Regions from separate parts of the Homo sapiens genome. Here regions 1 and 3 are each linked to region 2. The links come from fine-mapping of genetic effects on gene expression. A gene starts in region 2. Each other region holds a variant in brackets. All regions are shown on one strand. Distances are between the middles of the regions. Region 1 overlaps DLC1 (DLC1 Rho GTPase activating protein). Region 2 holds the start of DLC1 (DLC1 Rho GTPase activating protein). Region 3 overlaps DLC1 (DLC1 Rho GTPase activating protein).

The links. PIP is the estimated chance that this variant, and not a neighbour inherited with it, causes the effect.
Region 1: its variant is the best candidate, but not a certain one, in a credible set for the expression of DLC1 in monocytes after Pam3CSK4 (Quach 2016, PIP 0.70).
Region 3: its variant is the best candidate, but not a certain one, in a credible set for the expression of DLC1 in monocytes (TOPMed, PIP 0.69).

The regions. Positions count from the first base shown.
Region 1 is chr8:13,214,294-13,222,484 of GRCh38, forward strand. The region is part of intron 5 of DLC1 (DLC1 Rho GTPase activating protein); the gene reads right to left. Among named protein-coding and RNA genes, the nearest start is that of TRMT9B, 270 kb to the left of the region's middle. The variant AC/A (reference allele first, on the strand shown) is at 3,557.
Region 2 is chr8:13,510,493-13,518,683 of GRCh38, forward strand. It overlaps DLC1 (DLC1 Rho GTPase activating protein), which reads right to left and starts at 4,359. Exons shown (of 18, transcript NM_182643.3): 1 at 4,110-4,359.
Region 3 is chr8:13,241,649-13,249,839 of GRCh38, forward strand. The region is part of intron 5 of DLC1 (DLC1 Rho GTPase activating protein); the gene reads right to left. Among named protein-coding and RNA genes, the nearest start is that of DLC1, 270 kb to the right of the region's middle. The variant G/A (reference allele first, on the strand shown) is at 3,379.

The DNA.
Region 1 (8,191 bases), 300 kb before region 2:
CATCCGTAAATGACCAATTTAGCATCCTTACATTGTTTCCCGGGTTCTTTAGGAAAGTTTCCCTTTTAGCTTTCGGGACCCTGTTGACAGGCTTTGGAGCCCACTCTCCTATTTGCTTGGTCTGAAGGACCTTGCAGCTTTGCACTGTCAAACATGACCTGTGGTCTGTGCTGACTGTTGGTATCTCAGGTTTCTCTTATCATTGGTGAAACTGGCATATTGTCACATCTTACTGAAGAGCTGTCCCCCGGCCCCAACCCCACCTTTTTTTTTTTTTTTTTGTGGCTGCCCGAGGAAATTGGAGTGCAGTGTTCTGCCAGGCACACACCGGCCTAGGTGATGTTTTCTTCTCCAGCAACATGGAAAAGCCTCTTCTGGGGAAAGGTGTAAGGAGACAAACCAATTGCCACTTCCGAGTTGGAAAAATTGGATCCCTTTGTGCTCTTATCTTCATCCACTTCCAACTTTACTGATTTTACCGCTGCTGGGTTCCAGGGGAGGTAAAAAGGAGAGGAGAAAATGATTGATTTGAGTGCTGGTGGCAATCAATGAGTGGCAATAGATGGGTCTCATGACAGGGCTTTTGTAAGCGCCTTGCTCCATGACTGGGAATAAGATATTGTCAAACTCAGCACCACAAAATGCACACAGTGCCCATTTAACCACGTAACCATCCAGGAGGAGTACACACACAATATGTGCCTCTTATTAATTCATTTGTTCATTTATTCATTCGGCAAATAATTATAGAGGCTACCATGTGCTGGGCAGTGTTCTAAGCAAAGGATTATAACCATGAACAAAACAGCCCCAAATCCCTGCCCTTTGGAAGCTTACATGCTAACGGAGCCTACTTTCTACATTCTCTATATCCTTACGATAGAGTAAAACTATTAGATCATTTCCCAAACGTCTTACAAAAAAATAATTTTAACAAAAAAAATTAATAAAAGTAGTTATCTGCCTAGGTACCAGGCTGAAAGACTCTGAATTTAAATATTAAATGTGAAGGCTGGGCACAGTGGCTCACGCCTGTAATCCCAACATTTTGGGAGGCCGAGGTGCGTGGATCACTTGTGGTCAGGAGTTTGAGACCAGCCTGGCCAACATGGTGAAACCCCATCTCTACTAAAAATACAAAAATTAGCTGGGCGTGGTGGGGCACGTCTATAGTCACAGCTACTTGGGAGGCTGAGGCAGCAGGATCACTTGAGCCCAGAAGGCAGAAGTTTCAGTTAGCCAAGATCACGCCACTGCACTCCAGCTTGGGTGACAGAGAAGACCCTATCTCAAAAAACAAAAACAAATATTAAATGTGAAAAAAATTCAAACAAAGAGCTAGAAAGTACATCCTACTAGGGAAGCAAACTTTAAAACATACTACTATTGTAGAACTATTGAAGGTGAGACATATTCAGGGAAACTTCATAATCCATATTTTCTTAAGATTCTGTGTTGATTATTTATAAAATATTAAACACCCAGTCTTAGAAACCACATATATTTTTCACTCGTAATCTTTCGCATTAGATAGGACTAGTGCGCAAGCCCGTGGAGTAATCTACTGATTTTTCTGTCTACCTCTACAAAAGGCTACAACTCGTCTCCCCAGTGTGCCCTGCTGGGAGTGGCTGCTCGAATCCATTTAGTGCCCACCAGATCCCTCTTACCCACTCATGGTGTTTCCCCAGAAAAGTTTCCTAGGTGATTTTTCTAACTCCATTCTCTCGCAGTTCCCATCTTTCCTACACATTGCATCAAAGTGAACCTTCCGAAGAGTCACTGTCCTCTTATTGCTGTCCTGTTCCAGATGGTCTCATCAGACCCAGTTTCCTCTCCTTGCCAGCCTTCCACACTCTGGCACCAACTCAGTTTAGCAACAAACACAACAATAAAGTCAACAATAATACTTTGTATTTTCAGTGATGAATTATTTTACACCAAAGGTCTCATTTGATACTCAAAACTTAGAAAGAGTCAAAGTTGTTACAATTATTTTCATTTGACAGAGGACTATATTGAAGTTGAGAAAACTCACATGATTTGTTCAAAGCCACCCAGCTGCCAGGTAGAAGGATCAGGTTTAAAATCCAGTTCTTCTGAGTTGCAGATCACCTCTCTAGTCACTGCTTCCTTTCATGACACACTCTACTCCAAGGGGCTCAAGTCCATTTCTAGTTCCACTCCTTGCCACACTCCTCCCCAACTGGCAGCACTCTTATTGCCCATTTTACCCCATCCCTCTACCCAGCAGAACGTGCCAAGACTTCATAGTCTGCCTAAGGGTCCTTTCCTTCGTGTCATTTCCCCTGAGAGCTCCAGCATGCAATCACCTCCTCTTTCTCTGAAATACTTCCCTTAGCAATGGTTTAGCCCAGGGTTTCTCAACCTCAGGACTATGTACAGTTTGTGTCAACTGATTCTTTGTTGTGGGGGTCTGTCCTGTGCATTATAGGACATTTAGTGGCATCCCTGGGCCTCTATCTAGTAGACACTAGTAGTACCCCCAGCTGTGATAATCAAAAATATCTCTAGACATTGCCAAATGTTCCATGGGAAACCAAACCAAATTACCTCTGGTTTTGAACCACTGGCTTAACCTGTAATTGTTCTCTAATTGGGTGATGTGGGACAGGTGTGCCTCCCCTGAAACTTGAGGCTGTGGGCAGCATGTTTGTCTTTTGCTTGTGTCCTTGAAGGTGTTCTGTGCACAATAAAGAACTGAATATAGGTTGTGAATCTAAGCCCCACTTCCTAGTTTCAAATTGGAGCCAGCAATCACATCTTAATACTCCTGGTTAATTTTGAGTTGTACAGTACAGTAAATAAAAACCTAAGTTCTAAAATTTAAAGAAATGGATATAAACATCAGTTCTCTTACTATTTGTATAGCTGTGAGATGCTTGCTTTTCCATTTGTCTATGCCAGTGTTATCCAATAGAAATATAATACAAGACACATTAAAAGAGTAAAAAGAACCAAATCACGTTTGTGACTTTATTACTTAATCTAATGTATAAAATATCATTTTACAACGTTATTAATATCAACAATTCATGAAGGATGTGTGTGGCATTCTTCTCTTTGTACTAAGTTGTGCATTTCCTCTTATAACATGTCTCACTAGAATGATCTGCATCTGAGCCACTCAATAGCCATGTTATGTCTAATGGTTACTAAATGCATTGGCTTCCCCCATTAGGCTGTGAACATTTTGAGGGAAGAGACTCTGTCATATTCATTTATAATTAAAAACAACTGGCTGGCATGGTGGCTCACGCCTGAAATCCCAGCACTTTGGGAGGCTGAGGAGGGCGGATTATGAGGTCAGGAGATCGAGACCATCCTGGCTAACATGGTGAAACTCTGTCTCTACTAAAAATACAAAAAAAAAATTAGCCGGGCGTGGTGGTGGGCACCTGTAGTCCCAGCTACTTGGGAGGCTGAGGCAGGAGAATTGCTTGAACCTGGGAGGCAGAGATTGCGGTGAGCCGAGATCACGCCACTGCACGCCGGCCTGAGTGACAGAGTGAGACTCCATTTCAAAAAAAAAACA[AC/A]AACAAAAAAAAACCAACCAACTAAAAGTTGTTCTTTAAATAAAATACTCTGATTTTCTTGGGTCAAGGGCTTGCGTCCTCTTTGATTCCTTTTTGCTCACTCTGGGAACCATTTTAGCCCTTACATAAAATACCAGAAACATGACAGAAGCCAGTCCCCTCCCTTGAATGGAGTCCTCTCTACTTGTAGAAATAAGACATACATGTATCAAATCACAACAAAAAGCAATATATAATAATTAACTAAAATGCTATCCACTAGAAAGTTTCAAAATCAATGGGTGATGGAAAGAACAGTCTCTTCAACAAATGGTGCTGGGACAACTGACTAGCCACATGCAAATTAATAAACTAGGATCCTTACCTTACACCGTATACAAAAATTAACTAAAAATGGATTGAAGGCCTATGTTTAAGAGCTAAAACTATAAAACTCCTAGAAGAAAGCATAGATGAAAATGTCCATGATACTGAATTTGGCAATGCTGTCTTAGATATGACACCAAAAGCATGAACAACAAAAGAAGGATAAGCTGGACTTCATCAAAATTAAAGGCTTTTGTGCGTCAAAGGAAACTGTTGATAAAGAGACAACCCAAATAATAAGAGAAAAAATTTACAAATCAGTAGACATTTTCCAAAGATGATAATGCCTAACATACATGAAAAGATGCTCAGGGTTACTAGCCATTAGGGAATTGCAAATCAAAACTACAGTGATGTAATGCTTCACACACACTAGGACAGCTATCATAATTTGAGAAAAGGAAAATCACAAGTATTGGTGAGGAGGTAGAGAAACTGGTTCACGCATTGCTAATGGGAATGTAAAAATGATGAAGTCTTTTGAAATAGTTTGGCAGTTTCTTAATAAGTTAAATATATAATTATCATATGACCCACCAATTCTATTCATGTTTATATATTTTATATATAATATAAATATATATCATAATTATATTCATAATTATATGAATATAACTATATATGAATATAATTATATAATTATATATGAATATAATTATATAATTATATATGAATATATATAATTACATACGAATATATAATTATATAATTACGTACGAATATGATTATATAATTATATACGTATATAATTATATACGTATATAACTATATAATTATATACGAATATAATTATATAATTATATACGTATATAATTATGTGAATATAATTATATACGAATATAATTACGTGAATATAATTATATAATTATATGTGAATGTAATTATATAATTATATGTGAATATAATTATATAATTATATGTGAATATAATTATATAATTATATGAATATAACTATATAATTATATGAATATAACTATATAAGAATATAATTATATAATTATAATATGAATATAATTATATAATGATATTCTTGAATATGAATATAACTATATAATTATAATATGAATATAATTATATAGTTATATTCTTAAATATGAATAGTTATATTCATATAATTATAATTATATAAATCATATAGTTATATAATTCATATACTTATATAATTATATTTCATATAATTATACTTATATAATTCATATAATTATACTTATATAATTATAATTTATAAAATATATAAACAGGAATAGAATTGCTGGGTCATATGATAATTATATATTTAACTTACTAAGAAACTGCCAAATTATCTTAAATATATATACATTTATATTTATACATCTAAATTCTGACTCAAATTCAAATTTCCTTCGTGCTCAGAAGCCCACCTTCTTCAAAAAAGCCTTCACTAATTCCTTGGAGATATTTTTGGAGATATCTATATATCTATATCTATATCTCCAAGAATTGTATTGAAAAAATAAAATATGGGTCTTCAAACAAAAACTTGTATAAGAATGTTCATTGCAGCACTATTTATAGCAACCAAAAGTGGAAGCATTCTGAATCGTTATTAATGGGTGGATAAATTAAATGAGGTATGTCCATCCAATGGATTATTATTCAGCTGTAAAAAGGAATGAAGTACTGATACATGCTACACACATGGATGAATTGAGACCATTATAGCAAGTAAAAACAATGCGACACAGAAGGCTACATACTGTCTTAATTCCACTACATGAACTATCGAGAATAGATAAATCCGTAGACACAGAAAGCAGATTAGTGGTTTCTAGGGCCTGGGAAGAGGAGGGGTTGGCGGGAGTGACTGCTCAATGGGTACAGGGGTTTCCTTCTGGGGCGATTAAAATGTTCTGGAAGTAGATAATGGTGATGGTTGTACAACATTGTAAATATACAAAATGCCCTTGGATTGTACATTTTAAAATGATTAAAATGGTGAATTTTATGCTATGTATATTTTACCACAATAACATTGAGTCATTTTGGTCTCTGGGAAGGCAAGGGAAATTGTGAAGCCTTTTTTGAAGAAGGTGGGCTTCTGAGAACAAAGGAAATTTGAATTTGAATCCGAATTTGAATTTGCAGCAAAGGATAAAGGTGCCCCACGTAAAGGTAAAGATAGAAACTTGAGCAGCCTGGCTTGTGTAACAAGTGGGGATCAGGTGGAATTGTTGAGGAATGTCTCTTTAGAGTCTACAAATTTGATCGAAGTAAGGATTAATTTAAAGCACAAAATATATTTTCAGCAGAGACCAAATGTTCCCCAACTATTAAATTTAACTATCAATAAGTAAACACATCAAGTAGAACATTATATTCTTGATATTATTATTAAATACTATTTTCCTGTGCCTTTAAGAAAAGAAGCAGACACTCCTTGGGATCACTCACAGCTCAATTTTTATGGCATTTGTTTTACAAATACTGCGTTACTGTGGAGGAAAGAAGTGGGGACATGCACAGCATATTTATTTTTTCTATATCCAAAGTAAATCCATACATCATTACTTTAGGAACTAAATATGTATAATTTGCCTTGGATTTATTACAGCATCAAAGTGCAACTGGAAATATACGGAGTTTGAAATTAGAATTGTCAACTGTTCACATGGAGATCAATAGCCTTGGAAAGGGTGACTGTGGGCCCTGCCAGGCAAGCTCAGTGACAGCCTCACAGCCAGTCAAGAATGTCAGCAAGACAGGCTGTGGGCAGAGTGATGAAATGCAGCCCCACGTATGAGGGTGTTAGGTGATCACATTTTAAATTTAATGGTGTAGGCTTCTGCCAAGGGGGTACTAGAGGTTACTCCAGTGCACAATAAAATAAAGGGAATATCTTTTGAGTCTTCAGTTTTTAGCCACTTTCAACTCATTGGGTTTTCTCAGCCTTAAACTAAGGTCATTAGCTTTCACAAGTTCTCCCTACAAACAAAACAAATGCTGGGTGTCACCACCGCATTCTTTCCATGGGGGATGTTAGACACCACTGACCCGGATGATTACGCAGACAGCACACCCAAATAGAGACATCTAGATTGGGAAGAGCCCTCAAAAGCTGGCTGACAACCAGGATCCCTGCTCACGGGCCTATTTTACTCAACAGGAAAAATTGCTTCCAAAGGTTTTCTTTTCTTTTTTTTTTTTTTGTTTTGAGACGGAGCCTTGCTCTGTCACCCAGGCTGGAGTGCAGTGGTGCAATCTCAGCTCACTGCACCTTCCAACTCCTGGGTTCAAGCTATTCTCCTGTCTCAGCCTCCTGAGTAGCTGGGACTACAGGCATGCACCACCACGCCCAGCTAACTTTTGTATTTTTAGTAGAGATGAGGTTTCACCATGTTGACCAGGCTGATCTTGAACCCCTGACCTCAAGTGATCTGCCCTCCTTGGCCTCCCAAAGTGCTGGGATTACGGGTGTGAGCCACCATGCCTGGCCCCAAAGATTTTGTGTGTGTGTGTGTGTATATGTGTGTGTATATGTGTGTGTGTGTGTATATATATATATATATATGATAAACCATTATATATAATATTAATATATTAATATAAAACACATCAATATATTAATATAAAATACATATATTATAAAATACATCAAAATATTAATATAAAATATATTAATATATTAATAAAATATATTAATACATTAATATATAATTATATATTAAAATATATATTAGTATATAAAAAGTTATATATAATATATAAATTATCTATATTTTATATAACATATATAATTAATTATATATTATATAATATATAATATTATAAACCATTGCCAAGTGAGAAGTTAAACTTAGCTGTTCTAAGAACAAAGGTTGAAATTCTGACTTCTAAGAAGACCTCTGTATTATTTTCATCAATTCATGTGTATTTGGCAAACTTTGGTGTTCATGTTTCTGTGTAACAGAATATATTACAGAGAGGTATTTCACATCAAGAAATGTAGGGCCACTCCAAAAGCATTATTTATGTAAAATCATTTAATCACTCACTTTTTGCTATCATAAGTGAGAAAAGAGATAGAGAAACCCACATTTTCAATTCCTTCAGATTATGGTAGAAAAATGAAGCCTGTAACAGTGCTGTCAATAGATTATTCTGTATTGGATTTTGAGCTATTCTGCTAAAAGTGTTTGAGACATTACATTCCATGTCAGTATTTCATTGATTATACTGATGTTTTGTTTTATGTAGGTTAGACACATCCTTTAAAAGCTAAGTAACATATTATGTTTTTTTCTTTTGAT
Region 2 (8,191 bases):
ACTGTATGCAAAACAATTTGCACACATGAAATCTCATCTAATGCCTAACATGACCTGGAAATCCCATACTTTACTAATAAAAAGCAGAAACTCAAAGTAGTTACGGGGCAAACATCAAATCACAGAGCGTCAAGTGGTTAAGAGGAAATCAGAGCCAGTTTTCTAACTTTGTCCATTATTTTTTTCGGTACACCACCCCATTTAAAATGTGGAAAATTCACTAGTGCTCTGTTCTCACTGGCCTCATGTAACTTTTAATTTCAAACCATTTCTGGATGCCTATGCTTCCTTCTGGTGCTTAATGAACTTGAAATGTCATCTAATGAGAGTGTTGTTAACCTCTGGCCCCAGGCTCTGATGACTCTTTCCAACCTCTTATTTTCCTTCCCCTTTAGAAATTATTATTCTATTATTACAGGATGTCTGGAAAATAAGAAAGAAGTCCAACTCCCACACATTACCATTCCTCAACCCTGGTTTTCCTTTCTTTTTTTTTTCCTTCGCTTTTCCTTCCATTCATTTCACAAACATTTATTGACAAATAAGTGTTGATAATTCCTGGCAAGCTAGGTATTTTGCTAATTGCTGGGAATAAAAGAAACACTAATTGAGTATCTAAACCTGCTGTTTGATCTTCCTACTTCTTTTCTATCTCATTTCCATTAACAGGGCTGATTTTCTCTTTGAATTATTTGAATTGCATTGCTAAAACACTTTGTTATTTCAAGCTAATACAGAAACAACCTTTTCACACATGCAATTGTCTTTTCCACCCATTTATCTCAATTAATGAGCAAGTTCATATGCATGCTGTTTACATTATCTTTCACCTTTTTTTTTGGCATTTGAGTCACTGTTTAATCTTTTAAAGTTCATTTATATACTCTAATCCACTGAATCAAAATTAACAATCTTTTTTAACTGGGCCTCAAGGTCCTAGTTTATTCATTATTATTCTGTTTAACTTTCTTAAAAATTAGCCCATTTATTTATCAAAACTCTGTAAACTATCAGTTGAAAGCCAAAACAGAACCATAGAAGTAAACACTGTATTTCTCTATCACACCAAAGTCAATCAAGAGTCATTCTTCTCTGTAACTCTGTTTGGTCTATGTTGTTTATGCAAGGGGCTTATCTTTCGTGTGGGGAAAGCAGGCCCAATATTCACACTACTTCCCTCAAATTTGAAAGTTTTCAGTGTTCCCTTGTCCTCTTCCAATTCTCATGTGCAATTCTTGACATGTCTCTATTTTGATAATAAAATCCCTGATCTAGATCTTGGTCATTTGGAACTTTGCCATACTGTAATAGTTTTTAAAGAGTGATTCTCATTTTATAACACTGACATCACTCATTTTTCAAGAGGAAACAAAAAACAAACAAAAGACAAATTTCAAATGATCAATTTTTGACCTATTTTAAGCCTGTAAGATCTAAAACTCTATGAATAAGATTAAACCATCCCATAAGTATTTGTAGTGAGTTATATGGTATGGGTAGGTATAGACAGAGAGAGAAAAAATTCTTTTTTTTAAATTATAATGTCCTTATGAAGAAAATGAAGTGATGTGCTATCTTTTACTAGGCCTTCTAGGAATCAGGCAGTCAGCTATAAGGGCCACCACTTTACTGCACTTATTTCTCATTCCAATAATGTAGAGTGTGGTGACATTGAAAGGAAGTGTTGAATAGTGTCTCTTTTAAGTAGTAATAACATCAGGAAACTCAATCTGGTCATGAAAATGGAAAAAAAAAGTATCGTGACACATTCTCTCTAAGGAAATGGCAGCTATTAGAAATGGAATGTGTTACATTTATGAGAAAGGGTCTTGTCTGAGAAGGTATACTGCTTCAGCACACACAGCAACAAATATTGTCATATATGAAGTATGATGCAGATGAAATAGCCCACGCTCCCATTTTATACCACGTTGTTCAGACATTTATTTATATACTGTAAAAATTCTGCATTCTACAATTAAATGACTTTGTAGAAGGCTTAGAGCAGACATACAAATCAATTAAGGGATTGCAAACATGCTGGAGAAATGTAAACATATTTTTTATATGTCAACTTAGGCTTTTTATATATTTAGTGAAAAGACCCACATAGAACTTGAAATAAGCTACAGCAACAATGATTTAGGCTAGATAGAAGAAAGGATGCCTGGGGGTGGTGCTGTAAAATTGCCTCTGAAAGTCATTGGTTGGGACAGTTTCATTATGATCATTTGAGTACAAGGATATAAATTAGAAAAGCTGTTTTCTAGCCCTATTTTTAAAGAAACATCAGATTAAAATTAATATAATTATTAGCATATGGATTGATTTTCTTGACATAAACATCAAATATAATAAAATAGTCATAAAGCAAGTTACTACTGTAAAGTGTTTATTGAAGGCATACTGATTTGATTTTTTTTTAAAGTTAGGATTTTTTTCCCCACATAATTAACATTGGTGACAGTTTTACCTTTTTTTTTTTTTTTTTTTAAATTAGAGGAACTGCAAATTTCTGTCTGCAAAGCACCCTTCTACTGGACATGTTCATACTTCATTATGCATAATTATTATGGGAGGGCAGGATGATGGGATAAAAAGGTATCTGAATTATGAATCAGGGCACTGTGGTTCTGCTGTCCTCTCTTCTATTAGCTAGAGGTGTGACCTTGGACAGGTCACTTTTAAATCCCATTTCTCAGCTTCTTGTAGACAACCTCAAGCCATTGTTAGAGGAGACCATCTCTTATGTTCTTTCCTTCTCTGAAATTCCATTTGGAGATTTTAATTAAATCATAATTTAGATAAGTCAGTATTTTATCTTCCACATATATAAAAAGTAGATTCTTTTTCTCATATTTAAGAAGTTTTAACACAAATTGTCAGTGAATAGTTAAAATTTATCAATATAAGTTATTCTAGCATAAAATTTGAGAATAGCTAATATAGCAGATGGTCACCTTGTACTATATAAAAACTTATAATGAAAACAGTTACTTCATTTCTTATGATCCAACTGTCAAAATAGCTCTCCATCTTTCACTTAGTATATTTTGTATTCATCTAATAGATTTGAAAATGTACATGAATATTTCTTCCCTTTATGTACCATTTTATTTCTATAAAATGATGAATTTTATTATAAATATTCAGAAATATAACAGTATCTTATGCATTATAAGTCCACACTTTTTCGGTCATTACTAAACTTCTTTTCTAATATATTGTACATTTAAACATTTAAGATTACCTTGAAGAGACTACAGTCAGGTGGAAATGTAATTTTACGATTACATAAGTAAGGACACAAACAGTTTCCATATGACTGGAGTGATTTCTGGCTGCCTTAAAAGAGTTATAATGAGTGTCAGTGTCATTGAGATTGACTTCAGTTATTCAAAATATTACACAAAATGTGACCGGAGCAAGCAGTGAATCCAGGAAAATTAATATAAACTAAATTCGATTCCGACATTTAAATTTCCAAAACTCAGATTAAATACTATTTAGGACAGAAATAATTCCTGAAATTTCACGTGTTTACTTTTTTTTTTTAAATGAACCTTTTAAGCTGTACAGGAGAAGCTTGACATATGATTGAAACTGGCTTGGGTAAAATAATAAGAAATTCAATCTTCGTAGTTTTAAATGAGACACAAAATACTCTTTGGAGACTGATTATTAAGCACAAGTCACTCGGGTGCTTTCTACTCTCCCTGTTGGCAAAGGAAGGTAGGGGAGGAATTCATTTACACCTCACACTGATGTGTGAGAAAATGTATTTGTTTCACGTTATGCCAAGAAATAGGAAAACTGATCCGACAGCTCAATTAATAAATAAGTTAAACGTAAAAAGGGATAAAAATAAAATCTTACTTTATGGAGGAAAAGAGTTAAATCTATATGGAGCCTGTTTTAGAACTGACAGTTTGCTAAAACGAATTGACTCAGAATTTTCTACTTATCAAACATTTTCCACTTCTGATTTTATGGCTTTGCTCTAAAACCTAGGAAGTCACCAACTCCGTGCAAGATGCTAACATTTATCTCAATCTTTCTGCCTCTTCAAAGACCGCCTCAAAGCATAAAGATAGTCCATAGCGTCTTACCTAGACAACGAGGAGCTGAAACGCCAAGGCATGACACTGCTCAACACTCAGGCTAGGAAAGAAGTCCGTCCCCGTTAGTTTCTCCAAAATCTAAGTTCCCATTTCGTGGTTGAGATCATGGCTCTATTCTGAGCAGTTTCACGCAGTGTGTGAGTCTAACAAAAACACCCTCTGCAGCTGGAGGGAGCCTTAGCTAAGGCAGGATCCTGTCAAGGCATTCCTAGTGACTTCTGTCTACTAAATTCAGACTGAGGTTTTGCAAAAGGGGCCTCCACAACCAGGCCCAGATTGCCTGGAAAGTATTTCCTGCCTCTGAGGAGTGTGCATGCTAGAAAGGCTGTACGAAGAGAGGGGAGGAGGGGAGAGCCCAGCCGCCTGGGCGTTTTAGGAGTTCTGATTTTACACAGAACTCAAGTGAGTTTTGTCAAAGCTCTTGAGGTGATTAGCTGTAGAGTCATAAAGTCCTAGAGCTTTTTCTATCCCACACTGCTTATGAAAAAAGAAAGAAAGAAAGAAAGAAAACGTAGTTTTCTCTCTATCCACAACCTTTCCACTATATTAAATGTATATGCACAGCTTAATCAAAATGCCTGTGCTTGCTCTCATTTCAAAAGATCTTTTAAGAGAGCAAGATGAATTTAGCCTTAATACCATAATTCTTCTAAATGGCAAAACCTTTTTTGAACATGACTTAAAATTGGAAATGCTGCAGCTTTTCATTCTGTCCCTGAGACCATCTGTAAGTAAAATCCCAAGCATCCAGTTAATAGAACGATTTCTTCCAGATCTCTCTGATCACAAGAATCCTTCACAGAATTAAAATAGTTCGTGTTATGGCAAATGCAGCAGCGCATTACCTCTAGTCAGAATCCTCCAGTTACAAAAATCCAGTGCTGGAGCAGAAGACAGGCTCCATCTTGATCGTATTAGAGTCTTGCTGACATTAAACACTTACAACTGCTTCCATCTAGCATGGCAGCGTTCCTGAATCACATCTCTAAAGCCGCTCATGGTATCTGCATCCTTCGTCCGTCACAAATTTTGTGAACTATCATCTGTTTATCTTTTCTGCTTTCTTGTGCCTCCCTTGAATGACTTCCTCCTAGCTGCTCCAGGTTGGGAATTTGGACTACCATTTGGTTTTGATTAAAACCAGACAGGCAACTCTGGAGAATTTAGGGAATAAGCTAATGGAAACTGCAAGTATGGCTTTAATTAGTGCATCAATTAATAATAGATGTTAGCTCGTCTTATAATAAGATATCACAAATACAAACACAGAGGAAGCTGAAGTCGTTTCAGGAAAAAAGTTACACCAATTTTCCTTCCTTTATGACCCAGAATCCTCTTTAGAGAATGTGGAAGGAAAGAAGAGGGAGGTGGTTTTGGGACATCCAGGCTGTGGAGAGGCCAGTAGAGCAGCTTCATTGTTTATACCAGGGAAGCAGGAAACAGCATCTCTGACTTTAATTATCTTGCTTGGTGGAAATGGCTCAGTCATGTCTCCCTTCTACTTTATTTACAATCAATGGATTTCGCTGCTATTTATGACTCAAGCATTTTTTTGGGGGGGGACTGATGATCAGATTAATTATTAGGTCTATCTGCTTCTTGCAAATTTCTAGAAGCTTTCAATAATAGGAAGTGCAAGAATAATTCCAGTTGGATGTGATAAAATGAGTAACATATAAAGAGGTAAAAGACATCTTAAACTTGTTGGCCCTAAGATCTATCCTGTTCTTCTCTGAAATTGTAAGTAGTTTTCATTGTTCACTGTTATTCTCCATCCCTGTATATCACAAGGGCTATCTTGTAGTACTTTTTGATAATATTGGGTAGGTGATAACTCAAAGATGCACAAGGTTCTAACTACTATTTTTTTCCTTATTAGGTAGCTAAAATCTCTCAAAGTTAATGCAAATCATGAACCATATTAGACCCATGTTAGATGGCAAGAATGACTTATACTGTGCATGAGTTTGAAGATGAGAAGTAGTCAAATAAAAACGTTTGGTCAGAAGCAGCTTTAAAAGTTTAGATCAAAGTCTTATTGACTAAAAACATGAGCATTTAGGTTTCTTTAATTTAATCTTCAACCATAGGCCAAGAAAGAAGTCTGTTCTTCCATAAATTCTTTAAAAAGTATTTATATTTATATTCAAAGTGTTTCTACTGACAGTATGCCTATTTAATCTTTCCAACAATTTTGCGTGTATTCATATGTTTTATTTTACAAATAAAGTATTGAGAAGCAATTTTCTCACAGTCAAATGATACAAAGTGCCCAGGTCCACACTGGAACTCAGATATTCTAGCTCCAAGCTTTGTGCTTTAATTTTTTCTCCATAAACTGCCTTCCTTGACTTCCACTTAATTTCTTTATTAAATTGGGAAGACTTCTTAAACTCTAATAGTTTCTCTTTAAAAATAGAGACAATTTCACATAACTTATAGATTGGAAAGCAGGATGAAATTTATATGCAGAAATATTTGTGTATTTATGTTTATTTCCCTAAGAAAAACACTGGAGAAGAAAGGAATGAGAACTGATATTATGTCTTTCCTAATATAACTTGATATCTCTATCTCTGTCACTGCCTTTAGTACTGATATACAGTGGTTACTCAATATTATATCAGCATCATGCTAATTCTTAGCTACATTTTATTCATGAATACTGTACCCCGCGCCATATACTTTAGTTTTGTTTCTATTTCTATTGGCTTGGGAAAACAAGAAAACTCTGTTCACAAATGCCTTTTAGATATCTAGAAACTCTTGTTAGTAAGTTTCTCATAAACATACCCTTTTCTACACAAAAAATACATTATGTTTTCTTCTATTAATAGGATTACTTCCCAAATCTTTAATTACTTATATTTATTTTTCATTGTTGAGTTGCTTGATTCCAAACAAATCTCAGATCTTATAGTCTTATAAAGGCTTTACCAAATATGAGTGTAAAGATAAATAGTGAGAAAACTTCCTAAGTACTTAGTATTGTGTCAGGAACACTGAAGGAGTTCAAAATATTTGTCCCCTTCTTTCTACTTGCAAATCTAAATACCAACTTCCTTAAATGTTTGACTGTTACTCTGTACTGGATCAGCTAATCAAATAAGGGGACAGGGACAGTTAAGAACTTGAAAACAAAGTATCAGGATAGGAGTCTGCTCCAAAACTAACAGCTTTTGTGACCTGTGTGAGTTACCTAACCGGGGTGAGGATGTCTTAGCTTCCATAACTAAGAATTGTCACAATGCAAAAAGCTAGTCCATATAAAGCCATTAGCTAGAATTATTTTTACCACTTAAATTATTGCCTTTTTTAATGTTTACATCTCTCTTTCAGGTATTTTTAGAATCTTTCTCTCTCTTCTATTGAACTCCAAGTTAAATGTATACATGTGAAACCGTTATAGTGGTGGAACAATTATGTACTCTGTGGAAAGAAGAATAGCAGGAGGTGGATTAAATGGTATTTTAAAGATCACCTTTCTTTTTTTTGTTTTTGTTTTTGTTTTTGAGACAGAGTCTGGCTCTGTTGCCCAGGCTGGAGTGCAGTGGTGGTGATCTCGGCTCAAGGCAACCTCCGCCTCCTAGGTTCAAGCAAATCTCCTGCCTCCATCTCCTGACTAGCTGGGATTACAGATGCACTCCACCACACTTGGCTAATTTCTGTATTTTTAGTAGAGACAGGGTTTCATCGTGTTGGCCAGGGTGGTCTTAAACTCCTGACCTCAAGTGATCTGCCTGCCTCGGCCTCCCAAAGTGCTGGGTTTAGAGGCGTGAGCCACTGTGCCTGGCCTAAAGATCTCTTTTCTACTTAGGTACTTTTACCTAAACAATAAACATTAGCTATGATCATTTATCTAGTCATTTCCCAATCATTTTCAGGAAAGTTGAATCTGGACTTCTGTACAGAATTATTCAGTGTCTCTCATGCAGTTCAAGAACATTTTATGTAAAGCAAGATCTATCCTTTGAAAATAGTGTTTTACTCTTTTATGAAATAAGTAGCAACATCATTAATTCAGTCACATTAGACATTTGTGATATTATGCGTGGAAGTCAGCTTTTATG
Region 3 (8,191 bases), 270 kb before region 2:
AGAAATGTTTTCAGGGCTTTCAACAGGGACAAAGGATGCCGGTTGAGAATGTTGCTTTTATGGTGACCTCCCAGTTGGAGAGGTATTCTTCCATGGAGATCCTGCTGTTCTGTTAGGACACAAGAGGCATTAACACGCTGCTCACTATCTTTCAGGGGCCAATTAGCCAGTTTGGTATATCCAGACCCCGGGGTCCTTTCATTTCCTCTCTTAGCAGCTTGCCTTGTGGTCATTTACCATGCTTCATTAAGAGGGGGCAAAACTCAGATCTGCCCATTTGGCTCACGTTCAGAGCTTGGATGGAAGCTTTCTTGGGGGTGGCAGATGAAGCCATTAAAGGAAAATGTGGGGATTATCCATGGATTAGGATTATCTAACTCAGTGGTTTTTCAGCTCTTTTTAACTAGGAGGATCTCTTTTATAGGTAAAACACTCATGCACTCCAATATTACCATCGTTACACTGCTCGTATCTGTTGAGTAAGGCAGTAATGTCCTCATATAAACAGGTTGTTCATCTTGTCTTCTTAGTCCTCATTCTGTTCCTCTGCCAATTTCTCTAGGGAAGGCATCTTTCCTAGAGCATCAATACTCTGAATTTCTTGTGGTAATGAAGGTTGATAGGAGGAGTCTATATTTATTGTCTGTTGGAAACCATTTCTGACACACATAGATTGTTGAGATGTTTTAGAATAATGAATCCTAAACATCAAAGGAAAAGAAAAAAGAAAATATCTCCCCATCAGTTTTTTTTTTTTTCTCCTTGGAGACAAGGTCTCTCTCTGTTGCCCAGGCTGGAGTGCAGTGGCATGACCACAGCTCACTGCAGCCTTGACCTCCCGGGCTCAATGGATCCTCCCGCCTCAGTTTCCCAAGTAGTTGGGACTACAAGTGCATGCCACTACATCTGTACTTTTTTAATTTTTTGTACAGACAGAGTTTTGCCGTTTGCCCAGGCTGATCTTGAACTCCTGGGCTCAAGCGATTCTCCTACCTTGGCCTGTGAAAGTGCTGCGATTACAGGTGTGAGCCATTGTGCCTGGTCTCCTCAATAGGTTTACACAGGTGTTGCCATTGGAGAAGGCTTATATTTTCTTGCTTAGTGATGATTCAATGTGTGTGTAAATCAGAAGGAATTGAAATCAACTATGAGGGTGCCCAAGGTTATGGAAAATATTACTTTAACATTTTTAGCAATTTTTTTTTTACCAGTTTAGTGAGCAGGACTGATATGGTTTGATGCTGTGTCCCAAATCTCATGTCGAATTGTAATCCCCACATGTTAGAAGAGGGACCTGGTGGGATGTGATTGGATCATGGGGTGGATTTCCCCCTTGTTGTTCTCGTGATGGTGAGTGAGTTCTCATGAGGTCTGGTTGTTTAAAAGTGTGTAGCACTTTGGGAGGCCAAGGTGGGCAGATCGCTTGAGGTCAGGAGTTCAAGACCACCCTGGCCAACATGGCAAAAACCCATCTCTACTAAAAATACAAAAATTAGCCAAGCATGGTGGCACATGCCTGTAATCCCAGCTACTCGGGAGACTGAGGCAGGAAAATCACTTGAACCCAGGAGCTGGAGGTTGCAGTGAGCCAAGATCAAACCATTGCATTCCAGCCTGGGTGACAAGAGTGAGACTCTGTCTCAAAAAAAAAAAAAAAAAAAAAAAAAAGTGTGTAGCATTTCACTCTTTGTCTCTCTCCTGCCACCATGTGAAGATGTGCTTCCCCCTCACCTTCTGCCGTGATTGTGAGTTTCCTGAGGCCTCCCCAGCCATGCCTCCTGTACAGCCTGTGAAACTGAGTCAATTAAACCTCTTTTCTGTATAAATGTCCAGTCTCAGGTAGTTTTGTACAGCCATGTGAGAAAAATTAGAGACCTAGGGTTAGAATTTTAGAGTACAAGGAAAGGGTTTGTTAACAATAGGAACAATGATGAAGACTTGCATGACACTAACAGAGCATATTTTCTTCTTTTTTTCTAGATCTTTGTTTCTCTTTGTCACTGTTGTACTAAAAATTGTCATCAGTATTTGAGTTCCACTTTCTCTCAAGAGATAACTTTGTCTTCCTTATCATCAAGAAAATTGAGGTCATCAGCTGCGAACAACATCAAGTTACTAGCAACATCTGCATTCCAAGGGCCAAAAGAGCTGCTCTCTGTCTTTCCATGTATTCTTGGACAATCTCATTCTCTTCCTATTTGTTGATGACTCCGTAATTGGTATCTTTTGACTGTCCCTCTCTCTTAAGTTTAGACTCATATATGCACCTGTCCTGGGGTTGTGTATCTGTGGAGGTCACAGGCACCTCATACTCACTCTTTTCCTCTGTAACCTGCTTCTCTTAGGAAATTCCTCACCTGGGGGAACCACCATTCCTTCAAGCACCCAAGGTAGGAACCTGGTGTGAAGCTTGACTTCTCCCTTTCCTGTGCTTCACACACTTGAGTAATCCCCAGGCACTAATTATTTTACTTTCTAAATATTTTTCAAACCCATTCCCTACTGTTTAGCTATACTTCCTTCCTTCAGGCTATGATAATCTTTCTCTTAGATACTTACAGTGACTTTTAAGGACCCTCCATTGCCTAAAAATCAGATCTCTGCCTGTCAGTATGATATTCAAGATTTTTCATGATCTTCCCTTTCCAATTTTTTTTTTTTTTTTTTGAGACAGGATCTCACTCTGTTGTTCAGACTGGAGTGCAGTGGTGCGATCATAGTTCACTGCAGCCTCGAACTCTGGGACTCAAGTGATCCTCTCTTCTCAGCCTCCAGAGTGGCTGGGACTACAGGTGTGCAGCACTATGCCTGGCTACCTTTTTAATTGTTTTATAGAGATGGGGTCTTGTTATGTTGCACGGGCTGGTCTCAAACTCCTGGCCTAAAGTGATCCTCCCACTTCAGTCTCCCAAAGTGCTGGGATTACAGGCATGAGCCACCACTCTTGGCCTCCTTTCCACATTTATCTGCCACTCTCCTCCTCCCACTTTACCAAATTGCACACACCAAGAGATTGCTTTTATTCCTTCCACTTAAAAATCTCTTCCCTACGTTTCTTCATCTGATGGACTCTCACCCACCTTTCCTGAATCTCCTGGCCAAGATAAACATGCCCCTCTACTGTGATCCAATTATAGTTTCGACATATTTGTTTCTTATCACCTGTATGTTATAGTATATTGTAATTGTCTGTTAATTCATATTCCCTCTCACACCTCTTCACTCACTTTAACCATTCCAGGCAAGAAGGAAGACGGTTGCTTATACTATGCCAACATTTTGTTGTTCTTGTTTTTGTTTCTAGAACAAATGCTGGAAATTCTTTGACATAACTTCCTTCAAGAGTTGAGCTTTATTTTTTTCCACCCCTTATGTTAA[G/A]GCAGGAGTATCACTTGCTTGTAACCAACAGAATGTAGCTGTGTGATTTCTAAGGTTAGGTCAAAGAAGTGATGCCAGTTTTTCTTGTTCCCTGGGACGTTTGTTTTGGGGGCCTTGTTTTAAGAGGTCTGACTGCCCTGAGGTGGCCACACTGTGAGGAAGCCCAGGCTATAGGAAGAGGCCAGGTGTAGGTGCTCCGTTGAGGCCCCACTGGGGTGTCTGCATCAACCAGCAGGCACTAAAGACACCTCTATGTGATTCTGGCCTCTAGCTGTCTTGCAACCCTAGCCTTTGAAACTCTCCTGGCCAATATCCCGGACATTGTGTAGCAGAGGCACTCTGTGCCTATCCCAATTCTGACCCACAGAAGCTGTGAGCACAATAAGTGGTTGTTTTACACCACTAGGTTTTGAGGTGGTTTTGCAGCAATAGTAAAACAATGCACAGCCGCAGCAGAAATCTGCTCATTAACCCTTTATTGGCTCTTCCTCTCACCCTCTCATTCTTCCTTGTGCCTCCTGGGAACACATTCTAAATGAGCTACCTCCACCTGAATCTTTGTCTCAGGGACTTTTCTTTAGGGAAATCCACGTTAAGATACTGTACCACTCCCATCATCAGAAATTGTTTAGATAAATGCAAACTTTTAAAATTTTTTTATTATTTTATTATTTCTTATTTTATTTGTTTTTTGAGACAGAGCTCACTCTGTCACCCAGGCTGGAGTGCAGTGGCATGATCTCAGCTCACTACAACCTCAGCTCCCTGGGTTCAAGCGATTCTCTTGCCTCAGCCTCCCATGTAGCTGGGATTACAGGTGCCCACCACCACTCCCGGCTAATTTTTTGTATTTTTAGTAGAGATGCAGTTTCACCATGTTGGACAGGCTGGTCTTGAACTCCTGACCTCAAGTGATTCACCCGCCTCAACCCCTCAAAGTGCTGGGATTACAGGTGTTAGACACCATGCCCAGCCACAAACTATTTTAAAATGCTTTAAACAAGAACACTTTAAACAAGCTGAAGAAAAGTATAAAACATGAACCAGGGTGGTGGTCCTGAGACAACATAATATTACAGAAGGCAATGGGGCTGACTTAGAGAGTCCAGCAACACTTCCACCTAGAACTGAGAAGAGTTTTAGAGGCTGTTTGCAATAATGGCGAGTTAAAGGCAGGAAGGAATTGAATTAAATACACATTTTTATTTATGGAATATTTTTCATTTGGAGGAAAATTACTTTGATTTTAAAAGTCAGAAAGCACGTCTTTTAAATATCTTACACTTCTTTTATTTTATAAGATTGCCAGGTAACTGTTCAGATGAGATTGATTGGCCCAAAAGAAAATTAGGCATTAAGGTGTCAATGATGATACTATTAGTGTAGTGTGAAGTTATTAATGTTTCAACATATAGAGTGGTTTTCTTTTTTCTGCGTAGATTCACTCATGTGGCATTCTTACGGAGAGAGAAGGAGAGAGTATGACTGTGTGTGTGTATGTGTGATCATCTGAAATAGAATTTGATGCTCAGAAAGCATTTGAAAATGAAGAGTTCACAGCAATTCATATCAATGCAGTTTCTCATCAGGTTCATAATAAAGATACCTACAAAGGTATAGTACGACAAATGCTTTTTTTTTTTTCTACGCGACCACATTCCATCACCTGACACCCACTTGCATGCCATTGCTTCACTAACATCTTTATCACATTTATCTGAGTTCCTATTTAACTATCTGGAGATAGTCTACAGAGTAGGGCTGTCACCCAGGATCTAGCAGAGGATCTGAGACATATTTCTAATATTTGTTGAATGAATAAAGCAGTATCATAAGGCCAATGCACCCCATCATTTAGATCATAAATACTGTTCATGCTTGTTTTGTTGTCAGTAGAGTGCCCCACCTAGAAGTGACCCTGGATTGCAAAACTGTAATGAGCAAAACCCAGACTGAGTGTCTCTCTTAAATACAGGCAGAAACAGACTCCTCTGTTAACAAGAATGCCATCCTGTGCTCTCAACCACATTGTAAGGAGCGTCACCTATTGCCCAGAAAGAAATAAGCTGCTTTTTATAAGTATTTAGTGCATGGCCACTGAAAATATTAGAGACAAAAGGCAAAAATATTGCTGAAATGATGGCAAGAATTCATTGGTTGGATGCCAAGTAAAAGTCAGTTCCAGTTGTTCCATTAGCAGTGAAAACTTCAGACACTGCCAGACATTACTATCTGCTTGTGCAATTTGGCACAGTTGTTACTAGGTCAGAAGTACAATTGCAAAACTAGTACAGCCAACACTTTGCAAAGCAGTATCAACTATAGAAGACACAATACCTTTCAAAGAGTGGCATGCTCTATGCAATTATGGTAGTTGTTAACAATTATTTAGGACTTCCAGTGTGCCAGGCAGCATTCTAAGTGCTTTATTTTTAGTGACTCATTTAATTCTTGCAACAACCTCATGAGACAGATGTATTCATATCCTTTCCATTTTACAGGTGAGGACACCAAAGCCCAGAGAGGTTAAGTATCCTGCCCATAATTCCCTACATTCTAAGCACAGAATGGAGATCTAAATCCCACAGGTTTATCTCCAAGATCCATGCTCTCAATTGTCGCATGATACCGTTTCCCATAACCACTATGCTTAACTGCCCTAACACCATGCAAATGCCTGTCTTTGAAGATATGTGGAAAATATGATCAAACAAGTGCAAAAAATAGAACTGCTTTATCTTCCAGGCTGATTATCATAGACTTGAGGCTCACCATCGTGCTACAAGAATTTCCTAACCAAACCATGTGATATTTTACTAATATTATAGCTGGCCCCATAGTGCTATCCATAACCGCTCAAAGTTAAAAGCATTTTTCAGTTCTATATTCATTTTAATGGGATGTTGTTTACAGTGAGTCTAATAAACAATATGTAAATGATTAGCTGTAGTTTTACAGCTTGAAACCATGCATCGGCTGTCTACAATGTTTAGTTACAAAACACAGTGCAAGTTATTTGGAACTGAAGCTCCAGGAAAGCAGGCACCTGGTTAGTCTCAGTCCTCAGTGTGCTTTTGCACAGGGAAGCTGCCCAGTTGTTAAATGAACCACTTCCTTGTGATGTTGTCCAGCACTCCTTTGCTCCTGTTTCTTTGCTCCCCTTCTCTTCCCAGCCCCTTTCTCTGTACCATTGACATCATATTTAATTGATAACACACTCTCTTATATCCACAGTTTTTGCAGCAGCTTCTGCACCTGTTGGTCCTATTGGAGACTTGGCTTCCCCCTTAGCAAACCTCTTTTCCTGAAGCCTCATTTTGCTTCCATATTCTATTAGGTTAGTTGCAGGAAGAAAGACTCTCTGACTCTGAGAAAGACTCTCTGACTCTGAGCTGTTTCCCAATCCTTATTCTCCCAACTCTTTTGAAGTGAGGCCGTCAAGTTCATGTCAATCCAATCCCCAGTTACTCCCCCTTATTTATTAAAGATTCTAGCCTTTTGTTCATATACTTCCCTTTAACTCCAACCTTGGCAGCCTCACCGTGGGAGGCAAAGTCTCTGCGGACACCCCCCACATGGTGTAACCCTGCAATTCCAGCACCATCACTGAGCAGCAGTCTGGATCTTTTTATCCCCTGGGGTGCTTCCTTCAGAAGTCCTCAACCCTGAAAACGCATTCTGATCTCATCCTTCCATCCCATGTCTCCCTCTCCACAGCTGGGTGGAGCCAGTCTTTTACTCTTGAACACGCATTCTCCATTCCCTGGTATCCTGGCTTCTCAATATCTTCAACCAGGAAAACCTCCACATTGAATTAAAGCTGCAATTCACCTTTTTTTTCCCTCCCTGGGATGACTAATTACCACTGTAGAAACTTCCACAGCTTTGCAGATAGAAATCATTACCAATTGGAACTCCCAAACCTCAGAGGGGCTATTTTACTCATTTACTCCCTAACCTCAGAGGGGTATTTTACTCATTCTTAGACTCCTCACTTTCCATTCCTCAGTGATGCCTCTAAACTTTCCCCACTCATCTCAAACCTTCGTTTTTCTTTTTTTTCCTTTGAGACAAAGTCTCGCTCTTGTTGCCCAGGCTGGAGTGCAATGGCGCGATCTTCGCTCACTGCAACCTCTGCCTCCTGGGTTCAAGCGGTTCTCCTGCCTCAGCCTCCTGAGTAGCTGGGATTACAGGCACCTGCAACCACATCTGACTATTTGTTTTGTATTTTTAGTAGAGACGAGTTTCACCATGTCGGCCAGGCTGGTCTCCAACTCTTGACTTCAGGCAATCCACCCGCCTCAGCCTCTCAAAGTGCTGGGATTACAAGTGTGAGCCACCACGTCCGGCCACCCTGACTCATTTTCAGCAGACTGTATTGTCTCCACTGCATTAAGAGAGTTGAGACTATTGGTATCCTCTATCTCAGCTTCCAGGCACTCCTTGTCATGGTACCCACTGCCACCGTGATCCCATTTCTATCAGTCTCAGGGTGGTTCCTCCTCCTAGCCAAGGCTCTCTTCACTTGTGCCTTTCACACAGTCTTCTGAATTAGTGATTCAACAATTTTCTTATTCCTTTCTCAGACTTCCAACCTATTTCTTCCTTTCTCTCTCTTTCTCTTTCTGTCTTCTCTTTTACAGCAACGTTCCCTCTGCTTAAATACATGCTAAAGTCTCTTCCATCCTGATTAAGAAACAACCCAAACCAAAATCACAAGAACAACAATGAACAGAAAACCACAACATACCATAAACCCATCCTTTCCCATCCTAAATTATCCCCATTGATCCTTCTTTTTCATTCTCAGGAG